Homo sapiens: one gene and its partner. The protein of the gene in region 2 interacts with the protein of the main gene of each other region in a pairwise test. Each region holds a gene or a part of one and is shown on either strand. Other genes may lie near its edges.

Evidence for each region.
Region 1: the proteins of GBP2 (region 2) and PPP1R8 interact in a two-hybrid assay, tested with the Homo sapiens proteins (one large-scale study listed by BioGRID and IntAct).

What each region holds. Positions count from the first base shown.
Region 1 is NC_000001.11:27,847,447-27,849,980, forward strand, and holds part of PPP1R8 (nuclear inhibitor of protein phosphatase 1), read left to right. Parts: intron 1-2,534. UniProt on the Homo sapiens protein: Inhibitor subunit of the major nuclear protein phosphatase-1 (PP-1). It has RNA-binding activity but does not cleave RNA and may target PP-1 to RNA-associated substrates. May also be involved in pre-mRNA splicing.
Region 2 is NC_000001.11:89,119,330-89,123,166, forward strand, and holds part of GBP2 (guanylate-binding protein 2), read right to left. Parts: exon of another isoform or gene 2,655-3,837; 5' UTR 2,638-2,654; coding exon 2,448-2,637; exon of another isoform or gene 1,942-2,447; coding exon 1,814-1,941; exon of another isoform or gene 960-1,813; coding exon 850-959; exon of another isoform or gene 1-849.

The DNA of each region.
Region 1 (2,534 bases), about 61 Mb from region 2:
CAGTGAGCTGAGGTCGCACCATTGCACTCCAGCCTGGGCAACAGAGCAAGACTCTGTCTCAAAAAAAAAAAAAAAAGAGATTGAGACCATCCTGGCCAACATGTTGAAACCCTGTCTCTACTAAAAATACAAAAATTAGCTGGGTGTGGTGGCGCATTCCTGTAGTCTCAGCTAACTGGGAGGTTGAGGTGGGAGAATCGCTGGAACCGGGGAGGTGGAAGTTGCAGTGAGCTGAGATGGTGCCACTGCACTCCAGCCTGGTGACAGAGCGAGACTCCATCTCAAAAAAAAAATAACCTGCTCTTTATGTGCTGTTGAGTGAGTGCTTAATTTTAAAATACATACCATGCTCCTCTCCCATTTCTCATTCTGTGGAAATGAAATCTATGTTTAGGGAATCCTGGAGTACCACAGAAAGGCTGTAGATAACTAGCCAGCTTGATGTTTCATGTAAATAATGTGCAATATGAATCTGTAAATTCATTTTCCAGAGGGGTGCAGAGAGAGGCCCACCTTCTTTTGGCCTTTCTCTTCGGACTCAAAGTAAGCTATTAGGTGGAGGAGATGCATTATTGCAATACCACACAGTTTGCCATGCCTTTATTTTATGAGTGGCAATGGCACAGATAGGAATGTCAGCCCAGATGTGGATTAAATTTAAAGATAAGTATGTTGGCTGGGTGCGGTGGCTCACGCCTGTAATCCCAGCACTTTGGGAGGCCGAGGTGGGCAGATTACAAGGTCAGGAGATCGAGACCATCCTGGCGAACACGGTGAAACCCCGTCGCTACTGAAAATACAAAAAAAAATTAGTTGGGCGTGGTGGTGGGCGCCTATAGTCCCAGCTACTCAGGAGGCTGAGGCAGGAGAATGGCGTGAACCCGGGGGGCAGAGCTTGCAGTGAGCCGAGATCACACCACTGCACTCCAGCCTGGTCGTCAGCGAGACTCCATCTAAATAAAAAAGATTGTATGTTGAAGAACCAAGGGGTAGAAGTTACAGAGATGCTCCGATCGTTCAGCATGTGGAAGAACTATCAGATAGCTAGAACTGTCCAAACAGCAACAAACTTCCCCTTAAGAGTAGTGAGATCCCTGTTAATATTCAGAAGGTGATTAGAAAATGCTGGTTAGAGATGATATAGAAAGTTTTACTTTTTATAAAAAAAAAATCTCTAAAATATATTAGACTAAGTAAGATCTGTCAGAGTTCCTGCTTAGACTTTGTTTAATCCAAAAGGAGTATAGGATTGAGCAGGATGTTTCATGAGCTTTAGTCTAGTATGGAAAAGTAGATGTTTTTCTGTGGGATTCCATAATGCCCCTTGAGCTTTTTTGTTTGTTTGTTATTCCTTTGGAATGTTTTCTTGTCATTAAAGTACAAAATCAACAGGTGTATAGTTTTATGTCAATTTTATTGCAGTATAATTTACATATAATAAAATCTACACATTTACGTATATAGTTTTGGCAAATATATGTGTAACCACCACCATAATCAAGATAGAGAAGATTTCTCTCACTCCAAAAAGTTGCCTCGTAGCCCTTTGCAGCAGCCCACTCCCAGGCCCAGGCAGCCAGTAAATATTTTCTTCACTGTAGATTGGTTTTGCTCTCAGATTAATGTTTAAAAATTGGACACCAGGTCGGGCGTGCTGGGTCACGCCTGTAATCCCAGCACTTTGGGAGGCCGAGGCGGGCTGATCACCTGAGGTCCGGAGTTCAAGACCAGCCTGACCAACATGGAGAAACCCTGTCTCTACTAAAAATACAAAATTAGCCAGGCGTGGTGGCGCATGCCTGTAATCCCAGCTACTCCGGAGGCTGAGGCAGGAGAATGGCTTGAACCCGGGAGGCAGAAGTTGCTGTGAGCTGAGATCGAGCCATTACACTCCAGCCTGGGCAACAAGAGTGAAACTCTGTCTCAAAAAAAAAAAAAAAAAAAAATTGCACACCAAACATGGACATACCACATTTTTTCCCCCTCAAAAAAGGGTAAAATATCTATTGCCATCTTTTATCATTTCCATTTCCTAAAAGGGATTTTTTTAAAAATGTTTTTTATTTTTGAGACAGAGTCTTACTCTGTCACCCAGGCTGCAGTGCAGTGGCACCATCTCAGCTCATTGCAAACTCTGCCTCAAGTGATTCTTGTGCCTCAGCCTCCCGAGTAGCTGTGATTACAGGCACCTGCCACCACGCCTGGCTAATTTTTGTATTTTTAGTAGAGATGGGGTTTTGCCATGTTGGCCAGGCTGGTCTCAAACTCCTGATCTCATGTGTTCCTCCTAAAAGGGCATTTTAATATGAAATAAGAAAGTGAGCTATGTAACTTTAGGATAAATTAAATTGATATGTTTTACTTTATGTAAAACTCACAACACCATCCTTGGCTGATGTAGGATGGTGAAAACTTTGTTATGGAGCAGTGTTTGGGAACCATCGTAGATGACTGGAAAGGTCTCTTCAAACCGTAAGATTTCAACATCATGAAATAGGTTGTCTGGAAAGGAGAACAGGCTAGAAGTTAGGAAT
Region 2 (3,837 bases):
CATATAGGAATATGGGGGTGATCTTGATGAAATCTAATTCAGTATAATGCTTGAAACTAAGCTAATGGAAATGGTGAGGTCATTGATAATGAACTAGGTTAAGTAATGTGTGAGAGTGGAGAATGACAATAAGGGTGGAGAGTTCCAATAAGGTGATGGAACTGAGACACCAGGGTGTTAAATAATTGTCTATTGGTTGCTAGTCTCTAAAAAGACACTAGGAACTAAAATCTTTAATGAATGAAGGATGTATTTATTGGAACGTTGCTAGATAATTGCAACAAAAATAGTGGTGTAGTCTGAGGGCATATATATTAAAGAAGATTCTCTTTTTAATGGTAAAGGAATGAGAAAGTGTCCAGAACTCTAATATGGAGCAAGGAGGATACCTAACTCATCTCTTACACTTATGATATGCAAGGTATGGGATTAAAAATAGTCATCACATAAGACCACTGGAGAGGTCTGTAGGAGAAATAGTATCTATAGTGTATAGCTAGGTATCATTTAGAAGGCAACACTTAGAGCAGATGATAAGAATATAGAGAGTTGCAGAAGTGAGAACATGAGTTCTAGAGGACATTGAAGGTTTGGACAGGCATAGGAGATTAAGTCAGATAGAGGATATACAGAGTCTTGGGTGGCTGAGTATCTAACGAGACATGTAACTGGGAAGACTTGAAGTTCAGATGGAGATTGAGATAGAATGAGATGTTCAGCATAATGAGATTTATTAAAGAGAGGACTTATGAATTCTTCAGTACCTGTCTGTCTGCCTCTGTACTTGGTGAAAAAATGAAGCTGTTATTTTCTAGGTTTACTGCTGTTCTGGACCACAAAAAAGGATACTGAAGTTGGTCCATGGCCTGCTGGTTGATGGTTCCCATGCTATTGTACACGAAGGTGCTGCTCAGGAGGATGGCCAAGGCAAAGATCCAGGAGTCATTCTCATTGTCACCCTGTAAGTCATTGTAGAAGCCACAAAGAAGAATGACTAGCAGAATGTACAATCAATTCAGATAGCTGAAGACTGACTGAACTCCAACTCTGTCTCTCATTAGTTCTGAAAACTTAGGTAACTCACTTCCTTATGCAGTATTTTTTTCTACCTGTAGAACAAATTTATAATATTTATGATGTATAATTTAAGGTGTTATATATAAATATATGTCAGCAGGAAACACATGAGCACTTGGTAGGAGAAGCTATTTTGATCAGCTACTAAAATTCAAACTGGTACCCTAAACTTAGTTTATGACCCTATTCCATTTCCATGGCACATCATAGTAAGATATTTTTTACACAGTAGTTAAAATAAGCTCCTTTAATAAAAGCTTTCTATGTCTAAGATTTATAACAGTAGTAATATATTATCCTTAATGAGCAAAGATGTTATCATTAGATTTTACACTTTGCTTCTCTTTCTACTGGTGCTGGTGTGGATGTGAACATTTTTACTACCTTTGTGGGATCCCACTGTAAAAAGTCAGACATGTTTGTAAAACGTCTACTGAAGTTTATAAGCACCTTCAGCAGCCTCACCAAAACATTTTACTATAATATGAAAGAGAAATAACTGAAAACATCATTAGCCATTATTTCATAGGTTTACCCATAATTAATCAATTGAACTTATTGTGTACTCTGAATGCTTATACCACACAAATTTTAAGAAATAATATATTAATATAATTAACTAGAGCCCTAAATCAAGGAGTAGGAGTGATTGTGCAAAGATGGTTATCGATCTGACCTGGTTTATGTAGATTTTAATCTACCTAAGTGAAATTTTTAAAATACTTATTTTTTTTACCTTCTCTATATCTCCCAGGCCCTCAGTGTCGAGCAGAACTAGGGTGTGTTCTGGCTTCTTGGGATGAGGCACACACCACATCCAGATTCCCTTGGTGTGAGACTTCACTGTGGAGCCTAGAGAGAAGCCTGTAGAAGGAGAGGATAAAAGGGAAAAGAAATTACTTAGTAGGTGTTTCTGGAAATTGAGATAAAAGTTAACATAATTGAAGTTAAAAGAGATAAAAGAAAATACAACTGGCATAAATCTTAATTACAATCCTGGAAACAGGAAAATTAGATATTTAATACACACTGAAACATTCATATTTTTCTTAAAGTTCATTGAAAGCTTGCTGTCACTACATGAACATTTTAATAAATGTTTTATAAGTCATTATTATAGAAGTTAATTTTCTTTATTAACATTGTGTTCCTTCCAGAAAGGCACATTTATACCCTTAGTATAAAATAAAAGTAAAGTGGGAAGAGTCAGTTGACTGTAATCCTCCAAAGTCAATGTAAAGAGCCCATTAATGGACTGAAAGTTAGCTTTCAACATTCATTCTCATCTCTTTCTATGCTCACATCCCTAAGCTGGATGTTCGCCGTGTGTACGGACAGAAGGGGCTTAGAGCTTTGCTGGTGTCACTCACCGTTTTTCTTCCCAGCCAGCTTGTTCATCAGGTAGGATTTGCCTGTGCGATAGAGGCCCACAATCGCCACCACCACCACAGGCTGCGTAATTGCAGATAGGATCTTCAGAGCTTCTGGATTCACCACCAGCTGCCCTTTAGTGTTATCAATGAGGCTCATTGGGCCCGGCAAGTTGATCTCTGGAGCCATGTCCAGGGTGTTGTTCCCTTGTGTGCAAGGAAAAAGATGAAATGGAAAGCAGTTTTTAGGTAGTTAGCTATGCTGAACTTTACAATATGGGTTAAATTTTTGTTTTCTATGCTTGAACATTTTTTCATATACGTTTTTTAAAGCCTGGTTTCTCTTTAAGGCTGTCTTACAAATTGGGTCACTGGCTTTCTTTAAAAATAACTTTATTTTGAAATACACTTACAGAAAAGATGTACAATGGGTATGGAAAGTTCCCATATATCATTTCCCCTAAAGTTAAAATTTTCCATAACCATAGAACAAGGATTTTAACATTGGTAGAGTGATAACTAATTTACACTCCTTATTCACATTTCACCAGTTTCCCACTAATGTCCTTCTGCTCCATGACCCAATCCAGGATTCCTCATTGCATTTAGTCATTATGTTTCTGTATTTTCCTTGCATCTTTGATAGTTCCTTATTCTTTCCTTGTCTTTCATGTCTTTGACATTTTAGAAGTTGACTGGCTATGATTTTGTAGAATATCCCTCAATTTGGGTTTTTTGATGTTTCCTTATTATTAGATTGAAGTTATACATTTTTTTTTGCAAATGTCACCAAAGTGATGTTCTGCCATTTTCAGTGTCTTGTATTAAGGGATTCATGATGTTGACATGACTTTTTCTGGTGCTGTGACCTTAACTTTGATCACTTGGTTAAGGTGTTCTCTGCCAGGTTTCTCTACCACAAAGTGTTATGTACCATTTTGTCACTAAAAAGTACCATTTGAAGAGACAGTTTGAAGACTATGCAAATAAAGATTCATCATACTTCCATAATTTTTTCAGTCACTATTTTTAGCATCTGTTGATAATTCTTGCTTATAACTTACTGTGATGTTTGACTAAAAGTAATTTTCTATTTTCATTCCTTCTACATTTATTAGAGTTCTAATGTGAGCAAGAACTGCCCTTTCTCCTCTATTTATTTTATTTACTTATTTAATCATTTAGTTGTATCAGTGTAGATCTATAGTAGATCAGTGTAGATTTATCATATGGGTAACACTTTACTATCACTATTTATCTCATTGCTCAACTCGTCCCAGATTAGTTCACTGAGAGCTCCTTCAAGCTGTAGCCCAGGTACTATGGACGTGCTTCCATCATATTTTCAGTGCGTCTTTCCTTCTGACATTACAATATATGCCAGGCTTAT